Linked DNA regions of Homo sapiens. The protein of the gene in region 2 purifies or fractionates together with the protein of the main gene of each other region. This does not show direct contact. Each region holds a gene or a part of one and is shown on either strand. Other genes may lie near its edges.

Region 1 (3,652 bases), on a different chromosome or scaffold from region 2:
TCCACACGTTTAGTGCTGTTCAGAGAGAGTGCAACAAGGCGGTTGGCCAAGAAGGTGAAGAGAGGGTGCACCCTGCTCATGCTCTCCCTGTGCCACAAGGTCAACGCCATCCAGGACAGCCCCGTTATGCAGGCAGATGAGGAGACTGAGGCTCAGGTACATGAAGGGACTCACACAGGACACACAGCCAAGAAGCTGGGAGGCTAAGCTCATCCCCAGACCCCACTATCCCCAAGCTGTGAGCCTGAAGCCTTGGCCTGGTGCAGGCTCTCCCTGCATTGGATCTGCCGCCTCATGTGTCCCCACTGTGACCAAGCCCTCCCATACCTGCTGTGGGCCCCTCTGTGGGTGGCCTCCAGCCTGGGCTCCAAACCTCTCCCTTCCTGCCCTGCTGGGCATGCTCCCGCCTCCTGTGAGACTCACTTGTAGTCGCGCTCCCAGAACTTGAGGGGCCGAGCGTAGGACATGATGAAGACGGCACTGCCTAGCAGTGGGTTGAGAGGCGTGGAGAAGAGCCCCGAGAGCAGGGCCTGGACGAACAGCATGGCCGAGTCTGAGCCACAGTCAAGGAGGCGGCGGGCAACAGGACCTCCCAGCCCCCCACCACCCCCCACTGCCCCAGGCCACAGCCCTCCCTGCACACCCCCACCCAAACACAGGCTGGATACGTGGCACGGCAAACGGCTGGGCAAAAGCGTGGAAAGCCGAGCCCCAGGTGATCTGCCAGGGCGCGATGTAGGTCAGCACGAAACGCAGCTTGTACAGCAAGTCCCACAGCTGGCAGGGCCAACAGGGAGAAGAAAAAAGACATGCAGGGTCACTCATGGAAGCCCCCGGATGCCAGGCCCCATTCAGAGGCTTGGGTCATCGCACTGGCTTGGCCCACGGGGGCCAAACTCAAGGTCACTGCCAGCCCTTGTGCTCTGGACATGGCTCAAGGCGCCTGATGCCATTAGCAACCCCTGCCTGAGCTCAAAGGGGGCGGTGGCCATTTAGTTCACACAAGTACCCTGTGAGCTTCTTATTCCTATTGCTGGCCCCTTTTCACAGATGGGAAAGTTGAGGTTCAGTGAAGACAGAGAAGATAAATGACTTCCTCAGGTCACGCCACTAGGTCACTGGTGAGGCTGAAGCTAGACTATAGTACTGAAAATTGAGAACAGCCACAGGCCCTGCCCTCAGAGGGTACGCAGTGTGGATGACCGCCATCCTGGGCCAGGCCAGAAAACAAGAACAGAATGCCCACGTGAGGAAGAAAAAGGCTCAGGCCTGCCTGGGGTTCCAGGTACCACTGCTGGCCTCCAGTAGAGTGTAGGAGCATGGTTCCTTAGTTCAAAGAGCCCCCCAAGCCGTGGCAATGCCACAGCCGGCAGAGCACCTATACACACCCAGGCACTAGGGGCTTCTGAAACTCAGCTCGGACTGCTCTGGATCCAGGGTGGCAAAAGAGCGTGGAACTCAGAGGTCTGCGTCCAGAGGATAAGGCCAGGTCCTGATTACCCTAACCATTTCTGAGGAGGTGGTCGTGGGGTCAGACAGGCCTGGGTTCAAATCCTGGCTGACCACCAATTCTCTGGAAGCCTGAGGCAAGTCCCTCAACCTCCTTCAGCCTGCTTCCTCTCTGTAGAGGGTGGAAGTAACCCCTTCCTTGAGAGGCTGCTGCAAAGGCCCACGGGGCTGATACAGAGCGGTGGCCACAGGCCCTCAGGAAATTCTCTTCCCACCCAGGCAGAAGTTGGCTCTGCTCCCATTGGACAGCCTGGGGTCTGGGCCACAGCCACCAACTCACCTTGCTGCAAAGCAGGGACATGAGGAAGTAGTCAAGCAGAAAGCCCTGGGAGAGGCGCGGGTAGTCAAAGTGGAAGAGCAGGACGGTGAAGGCCAACGTCAGGTACTGCTGTGGGGGGCAGCAGAAGGCTGAGCGCAGCAGCTTCAGCCCAGCCACGGTCATCAGCAGCGCCCGGCAGCTGTGGGCAAGGGGCAGGCATCGGGTGCTTGGTAGGGGACCGGGGCAGTGGGTATAGGTGTCCCATCCCTCGCCTACTCTGGCCGGAGAGCAACCCCTGGCCTCTGCTCTGCTGGGCTGGTCCCTGCTCTTTTGGGCCCGTGACTCTTAGTCTCTGCTCTTCCAAAGGGAGTGGTGGGAACACATTTGCCTTTGAAGAAGCAACCACTTCCTGGGATGGCGTGTCAGGAGCTGGGGTCCTGCTTTAGCTTGCTAAACAACCTTAGACATGATTCATTCCCTCTCTAGGCCTCAGTTTCCCCACGGATCAAAAGGGAAAGCGGATGATGGGATCGTTGAGGGTGGGGTGGTCCTCACTAGAAGCAGTACTTGTCCGGGTGGCTGACGACTGTGTGGGCGTCCACCGTGAGGGCGTTGAGCACCACGGCGGGGTAGATGAGGTACTTCTCTACGCACTGCAGGCCAGCATACAGCTTCTCAAACCACATCACCTGGGCGGCACCTGTGTGGAGAGGCCAGGACTCTGCACCTGGCTTCCACATGCCTGCCTTCCCTGAGGAAGTCCTTCCCTAGGAGGGCAGGCTGTGCGGTCCTGACTCCTCGGAGACCCTGGGGGGAGGGGCTGATCTGTGGCAGCTCAAATGGGAGCAGCGAGCCCCAGCAGGGCAAGGGCTCCACATGGCACTTAGCACATCGAGGCTTGCTTTATGGCAGGTGCTCTGCTCTGCTGTCTGTTAAAACAAGGCCAATGATGAAATCGCAAACACCTACGTACAGCAGGCTGGCTAGGGCCTGAGTGCACAGTGAGCCCGTGAGCTGGGCCCTTCTAAAGGGCAGACCCCTCGGTTCAGGCTGGTTGTAGCCACAGAGGGATGCTAGTCTGGGAAGCAAAATCTTCTGTCGTTTAAGAAAAACTCAAGAAACATGGATCTTCATATCTCAAATCGAGATGCTAAAATAGAGGCTCCAGGATTTTTTAAAAACCATTATGCAGCCCAGTGAAGATGTGCTCCAGGCAGCTCTGGTCCACTGGTGATCAGTGTTTAATTCTGGACAAGAGATCCCTTCAGGGCCCTGGGGTTCTAATTCTTCCGTCTTCTCACAGACAGGAAGGAGGGCAGGACCAGGGCAACACAGGCAAGGGAAGGGCACAGCAGGGCACGAGGAGAAGAGTCGGTGGAGAGCGCAGCCGGGCAACACGGACACAGAGGGCAGGGAGGGAGCAGAAAGGGTAGTGTGGGCAGCGAGTGCCCCCTGCTGGCACTCCTGAGCCGAGAGGACCACAGCTCCCACCAGCCAGGCTGCAGCCCGAGCCACTGCCCAGGCCTGGCCATCAGGGGTGGGCACTCACCGCGCACTTCATACTGGCTGTACTCCAGCGGCTTCAGCACGGGCTGTGACAGGCAGAACCAGGGCAGCTGTTTGCGGAGTTGTGGCAGCAGGTAATGTGTGAAGAAGCCCACGGCCCCAGCCAGTGCGTACAACACGAAACCCAGCACCGACTGCAGGAGGGAGAGGCCAGAGACTCAGCTGATGGGAGCAGGCCAAGGGACCACAGAGGGCCACCTGGCACAGGCCGGGGAGGGGCTGCCCACGGCACTCAGATTGAGCAGGCTCCCGCCAAGACAGCGAGAGGCAGCAGCGGCCCATGCCACACAAACCTTCAGGGCAATAAAGACGGTGCTG
Region 2 (3,652 bases):
TACTAGGTTCTATTCTAAGTGTATTACATATATTAACTCATTTGATGTTCATAACAAAACTATGAGGTAAGTACTACTATTCCCCCCTCATTATAAACGAGAAAAGTGAGGCATACAGAAAGTAAGAAACTTTCTTAATGCACATATCTAGTTAGTGGCAGGTTCATGGTGCACAATCTTTTAACCACTATAGTATTCAGATTAATAAATTTAAAAAATAGTATCACCAGCAAAACTCTGAATTCTTTCTGAATGCTATTTTTTCCTTCTGTTCTCCTTGAATTTTGGTGGTGATATTATTGTTCAAACTTATTAAATTCTATGTTTGGAGTTAAGATTGAAACACCTTTTAATGCAACGCTGATACTTTAAAACCTAAATGCCTTTGAATGGAGCTTGAGAGTGAGGAACCTTTTTGGTAAGGATTCCTTTCTTTATGTTCCTGAAGCAGTTTTTTATTCTCTGGTATTTTGGGAACAAAGTATCCATTTAATTACTTCTTTTTGTGGTCCTGTTGCTATGCGCTTCTCAAGTGCAAAGACTGTTTCATTCATTTTCTAATCCCTAGATCCTGGCATGGGTCACGGCATATGATAGATTCCAGACAGCTATGTATGTGTGCATTTCAATGTCTGCTTCTACCTGTATCCAGACACACACAAATACACACACACACACATTTGCACATACATGGTTTCCTGAATGCTGAATTTGAATTTCGTTGAATTTATGCAAAAGAGCACAGGGCAATGAACCAAGAATGGGACTGGGAATCTGATCCTTACACTGTCACTGGCCATTTATGAGAAAATGAGCACATGGCACAACCATTTTGAACTTCCATTTCCTCATATTTAAAAGGAAGTCTGTACTATAAGATCGCTAAGACCCCTCTGGATTTAGGAATCTGGGAGGAGGCATAATGTGATTGAACCCAAAGTATTAGCTTTCATATGAATATAGAAAAATATCATCATGTATCTTGACTGATAATACAATCTCAAAGACAAGTTTCCCTGTACTTTTCAGGGCTATTTTTTAGCCCAGTACCTTATGGATGACTTCACAAGAGATCCACTGTATATCCTGGACAACAACCACACACATTTGCTGCTCGTGGACAATGGCTGTCATGGACATCCCACTGTCGAAGCAAAGCTCCGGAATCAGCTAGAGAAGTATATCTCTGAGCGCACTATTCAAGGTCAGTGGTTAGGAGGTAGGACACTAGAAGTGTACAATAACCACAGCAGCCACAGCATCAACAACAATCACTACCAACTATTGAGTGATGCGTGAGAAACACACCTGATCAGGTATTTTTATTGCCAAAGAACTGTTATTTCTCTTAATTTTTCCAACACATCAGGAATGCTTCTGCCAGGGTCAATGTGGTATGTACCCTTTAACATGCTAAAGGCAATGATAAATACGGCCATCTTCCATTGTGGTTTGTTAGTATCAAAAGCTGGCTGTCTTCTTCTGGTAGATACCATTTAAGAACAAATACGATCTACAATGACAAATATGAGTTTATGAAACAACGCAATTAGCTAGGATAGAAAAGATAAAAACCAACCTGCTAGTTTAACAATGGTATGGTTTACTTTTTTGAATCTTGGCTACTTCTGAGTAACAGAAAACAGTGGTCTCAAGAGAAGAATGCAACAGTTGAGTGAAAGCCATTATTTGCCGTGGTTGAGTGACATGTACTCTCTCTCTTCCTGTGGACAGGGTATTGAGATGTGTCCTGCTGTGGAACAAGATTACCTTGTGATTTAATGATAGACATAATGACAGGAACTTGTTGGAAATGTTGTCAATTATTTTCCTTTCACAATTGGACATACATGAAAGAAGAAACTATATATGCAATAAACTGTTGAAAGACCACTAGTTATGCAAAGTTCTCACTCAAGCAAGCATAGGATTATAGGAAAGCATCATTATTATAAGGATAAACTTAAACCTAGTTTAATTTATAGGTGCAATGGTAAATCATGCACAGGCTTTCAGTATTCAAATATGTATTTTAAATATCAATGACAAATTGCAACATGACCCATGTCATGCTATTACTAGTGTGGAGCAAAAAGACTCATCCGTCTTTAATGAGTGGATAATGTTCAAGTCCGTGAGATGTGAAGCTATCTCTCCACACCCTAGGCTCACAGGGCAGAAGCTCTTGGTCCAACTTTTCACAGAGGTAGGTGAGTATTTCTAATGAGCTCAAAATATGCTTTACTTTTTATATTTTACAGATTCCAACTATGGTGGCAAGATCCCCATTGTGTGTTTTGCCCAAGGAGGTGGAAAAGAGACTTTGAAAGTGAGTCCTGATTTAGTTTTCTAGAAGGTTGGCTAATAAGCCTATCCAACAAATTTGTATTTTCAAGGATTTGGGCTCATCTAATCTAACCTAATTGATTTTACTGCAGCAAGTAGGTAGTGTTTTCCCTCCACATACTGTTCCCCTAACAGACTCCGGTTATTCCTCAGTCAAGAAGATTTGGGAGGAGAATTTCAGTGACATGAATAACCTGTGTACTTAGTGTTGGCCTTGACAGTCAACCTGCCAAAGAGAAGAGTTGACATTAATTCGGGAGACTTAAAGATTGTAACCGGCATATATATTAGAAAGCTATGGCCAACCTATCTGCATTGAGATGAGCTGTGATCATACACACACAGATTGCCCCCAAACCAGATGTTTCCAGACCACCTAAGGCCCATTTATATGCCACCTGGGGATGCAGGTATGTTGCATGATGGAATTCCAAACCCTAAGTGATTCTGAGATCATGGAAACTTCTTGAATGGTTCTGCACCTGCAACACTGAGCAACTGAGCAAGAATTTGACTTCCCAGCCAATCTGTATGGACTCATTACTGAGTTCATCTTGCCTGCAGTCAGGCTTCTGTTTGACGTTTTTTTGTTTTTGTTTGATAATCCACTTGAATCAAAACCTTTTATTTATTTATTTGTTTTTAACTTTTAGGGTCAGGGGTATATGTGTAGGTTTTATGTATAGGTAAATTGTATGTCACAGGGGTTTTGCATACAGATTATTTTATCACCCAGGTAATAAGCATAGTACCCCATAGGTAGTTTAAAAAAAGTTAGTGTGACTACATTTTAGTAAGTATTGTAAACAATTTTCAAGAGCTCATTTTTCTAGGAATAGCACATTACAAGAAAGTCATTTTTAACTCATCTTTTTCATGAATTTCCGCAATGATTTGCATATTCCTCCTTTTACCCATCCTATTTTACCTCTAAGACAGGGAATAGATTAAAGATACCTGGAGCTAAAAGTAAGTGCTGGCAAAGTTATCTGGAATCATCATCTAGTACTTCTCATTATTCTTTTATGTAACAATGGCTGTTTTCTTCATCCATTCAACAGATATTTATTGAGTACCCGCTATGAAATTTACAATTGAGATCATGGTTAAATAAAAATATTCAGGGAAACATTAAAATAGAGATTTTTTTTCAGTGTGTGATTGTCAGTGTATTAAAACCTTTTTATGCCTAGTGTTCCATTATTGGAACACTAAGCATGTGGGAGTTATTTATATCCTACTGCTCAAGGTCATCACCAAGGTGATCGCCAAAAATTCAAAAAATTGCAAGCTCCAGCATAAATGG
Region 3 (3,652 bases), on a different chromosome or scaffold from region 2:
CCAGCACTTTGAGAGGCCAAGGCAACAAGATCTCTGGAGGCCAGGAGTTCAGGACCAGCCTGGACAACATAGTGAGACCTCATCGCTACAGAAAAAAAAAATTAGCCAGATGTGGTGGCAGGTACCTATGGTCCCAGCTACTTAGGAGGCTGAGGCGGGGGGATCTCTGGAGCCCAGGAGTATGAGGCTGCAGTGAGTTGTGATGGCGTCACTGCACCAAAACCTTGGGCAACAGAGCGAGACCCTGTCTCTAAAAAAGAAAAAAAGTCCGCTAAGATAAAGAACAATGCTAGTGTGTATAGACTAATAGAACCCATTTAGCTTTGAACATGTTCTACTTATTGAATTTTAATTTAAAAAACTATGCATCAGATGTGTTTTAAAAGATGATCAGTGGTGTTCGACTTCAAAGAAGAAATTGAATGGGAGATGGGAAATAGGTATGATACACCATCTGGCATAACATTGCATTGAAGGATACTGGGTGATAGACTGGCAGAGCACCAATGATTAGAATTTAGGTTTTTTAGAGACGAGATGTAATCTGTCTCAAAGACAAAAAGAAATTTTTGTTAATCTGGACAATTCTGAGTTAATTTTTAGTTAGGGTTAGGAGTTCTTAAATTTAGGAAGAAATTTTGCTAGAACCTAAAAGCTGGAAGGACGCCCAGCTCTCTAGGCTTTGCCTAAAAGTTGAATTCTGGGACTAAATTCTGTAACATCTTCGTGGATCGTTCTGCTACTGTGGGAAAGACAGCATTTTGTTACAGCAGAGACCAGAATTGAGAAAACCAGAATAAAAAAACTGTTCCCTCTGACCTCAGTGTTGTGATCTTTGACAGGTCACTTCTTTCCCTCAGCATCAGTCTTTTCAGTTATAAAATGAAGAGGTTGAACTCAAGACCTCTGAAGATCCTTCTAGTCCTATGCTGATCATCATTTTTTTTTTTTTTTGGTTTTCTTTTTTGAGACAGGGTCTCACTCTGTCATCTAGGCTGGAGTGTAATGGTGCAGTCTTGGTTCACTGCAACTCCTGCCTCTCAGGCTCAGGCGATTTCTCTTGCCTCAGGCTCCCGAGTAGCTGGGACTATAGGTGCATTCTGCTGCACCCGGCTAATTTTTGTATGTTTTGTAGAGACGGGGTTTCGCCGTGTTGCCCAGGGTGTTCTTGAACCCCTGAGCTCAAGGGATCCACCTGCCTCAGCCTTCCAGAGTGCTGGGATTACAGGCCTGAGCCACCACACCCGGCCTGATCATCAGATTCTAATTATGGAGTACTCCTACCTGACAAAGGAACTCGTTCTAGTTCATGATAGAGTAGATTGTAAACTGTGTTAAGCCACAATTCTTTTCCTGCTAGCTTCTGATTGTCACTTCTAGGATAGCTCATATATTATCTATAATTCTTCCCCTTTTGAAGTTAAATGTCTTTATTTGTAAATGACTTTTTTTTTTTTAAAGGGCCATCTGCCATCCTGGTTGCCTTTTTTTTTTTTTTTTTTTTTTTTTTTTTAATGTTCCCTAGTTTGTTAGAGACTCTCTTAAAGTGTCCTTCCTGCCCAGAGCTGGGGACAGTGATCCACTGGAATAGTGTACTCTGCCCAGTGCAGAATATGGGATATAGTTCTCTATAGTCCTGTATTTATGCACTTGATATGTGGATTCTAAGTGTTTGTTTCATCTTGTTTATTTTGGACTATTGTACAGGCTTTAAAAGATCTTACTAAATTCCACTGTATTAGTTTGTGTATATCTACAAAGAACCTGGACAGATAGCAGAACTTTATTCTCTCATCAGATACTGATCATTTGTCTGATTTGGGCAAGCTGTTTAATGTCAAGCTTGAGTTTCCTTAACTATAAATTGAAGTTTTAAAGTAGATGATCCCTGAGGTCTTTTCCTACCCTCAAATCCTATGACTTTGAGACTAGATGGTAACTTAGGTTTCCTCTAGTTTTAAAATCCTGTGAGTCTAAGATTGAGAGAATGTTAGGATTGAACAGAGCACATACTGTGTGTCAGGGATGTGCAACGGTTCCAGAGGTGAATAAAGGGATAATAGTCCCTCCTCTCCAGGAGCTGGCATCCTGTTTTTGGTATCAGGCTGTAGTGCCAGAGGGTGACATGTACAGCTGGGGCTTCTAGGAAGATTGGGAAGAAGTGGGGAATTGACCAGTACAGTTGACTCATGAATAACAGAGGTTAGAACTTCAACCAAATGCCAATAAAAAAGAGCGTTTACAGAATGTGAAACATTTATATGGAGGGCAGATGTTTCATATATGGGAATTCCACAAGGCTGACTGTAGGACCTGAGTATGTGTGGATTTTGGCATATGGGGGAAGTCCTGGAACCAGGTCCCTGTGTTTACAGAAAGACAGCTGACTTAAAAAGCTGTCCTGCCTGAAGGATGAAGGAGTTTGCCTGATGGCCGGGTGGCAAGACAGGGAGTGTAAAGGAGAGGAAATAGTTTATACAAATGCACAGACGCTGGAATAGTCAGGGAGTTACATGTGGGCCAGTATTTTGAGAATGCAGTCTGGTCATGGGCCAGACTGTGAAGAGCTTTATATGCCATATTCAAATTGTATACTGTAGGTGTCTTAGTTGACTTGGAGGACATGTGAACAGGCAGATCACATTAGGCTTCTGTTTGGAAGACAGGTTTGGTAGCTGTACGATGAATGGGTTGGAAGAAAAGGAGACTAGTGGCAGGGAGTTCAGATGTCAGAATTAAAGCAGTGATAGGGGTAGGGGATAGAGAAGGGGTAGATGAATGTGCTGGAGCTAATCAGAAGCATAATATGAGCTGTTGTGTAGCTTGTGCATGGCCAGTTTATCACATTCTGTTCCTGTCAGCAGACTCACCCACACCATGATGCTTTATCTTTGAAATGCATGCAGGAAGAGAAGAGGGCAGAGCAATCACTGAAGCAGGTCCATGTGTTCTTCCTTGGGGTCAGGACACTGCCATCCTGCTCCTCCCAGAGTCCTTTCTTTTTGTGCCTCTTGGTCCTCTTTGTTGTGGTGTCCCTTCCTCCACTGCCTGTTAATTTGGCACTCTGCTGTGTAATATCAATAATTGACAAAAGTCAGCCATTGTTATAGTCAGTAGTCACACCAGCAGTCTTCTGAGTGCTTATCAGAGAAGTGAAGTTAGGTGGTGGGTTTGAGAAGGATTTGATTACACACACGGGCATAATTCCATAGTGGATCATTAAAGAGAAAGTAGACAAGGATGGTGTCAGGAGTGGTATCTACTGTAGTCTTTGGTGTCATTTCATAAAAGTAAGTGTTCGGGCTGGGCGCGGTGGCTCACACCTGTAATCCCAGCACTTTGGGAGGCCGAGGCGGGCGGATCACGAGGTCAGGAGATCGAGACCATCCTGGCTAACACGGTGAAACCCCGTCTCTACTAAAAATACAAAAAACTAGCCGGGCGTGGTGGCGGGCGCCTGTAGTCCCAGCTACTCAGGAGGCTGAGGCAGGAGAATGGCATGAACCCTGGAGGCGGAGCTTGCAGTGAGCCGAGATCGCGCCACTGCACTCCAGCCTGGGCGACAGAGCAAGACTCTGTCTCAAAAAAAAAAAAAGTAAGCAGGCTTAGTGGACTGGACTCCTCTCACTGTTAGGGCAGGATGGTGAGAGAA

The links.
Region 1: the proteins of TRPM8 (region 2) and PCNX3 purify together in Homo sapiens (affinity purification with mass spectrometry; 2 studies listed by BioGRID and IntAct, with this or other methods). This does not show direct contact.
Region 3: the proteins of TRPM8 (region 2) and CHAMP1 fractionate together in Homo sapiens (co-fractionation; one large-scale study listed by BioGRID). This does not show direct contact.

The regions. Positions count from the first base shown.
Region 1 is NC_000011.10:65,625,720-65,629,371, reverse strand, and holds part of PCNX3 (pecanex-like protein 3), read right to left. Parts: coding exon 3,628-3,652; intron 3,469-3,627; coding exon 3,318-3,468; intron 2,698-3,317; coding exon of another isoform or gene 2,672-2,697; exon of another isoform or gene 2,475-2,671; intron 2,469-2,474; coding exon 2,324-2,468; intron 1,968-2,323; coding exon 1,790-1,967; intron 778-1,789; coding exon 669-777; intron 554-668; coding exon 424-553; intron 16-423; coding exon 1-15.
Region 2 is NC_000002.12:233,944,827-233,948,478, forward strand, and holds part of TRPM8 (transient receptor potential cation channel subfamily M member 8), read left to right. Parts: intron 1-1,029; coding exon 1,030-1,204; intron 1,205-2,261; coding exon 2,262-2,329; intron 2,330-3,652.
Region 3 is NC_000013.11:114,317,374-114,321,025, forward strand, and holds part of CHAMP1 (chromosome alignment-maintaining phosphoprotein 1), read left to right. Parts: intron 1-3,652. UniProt on the Homo sapiens protein: Required for proper alignment of chromosomes at metaphase and their accurate segregation during mitosis. Involved in the maintenance of spindle microtubules attachment to the kinetochore during sister chromatid biorientation.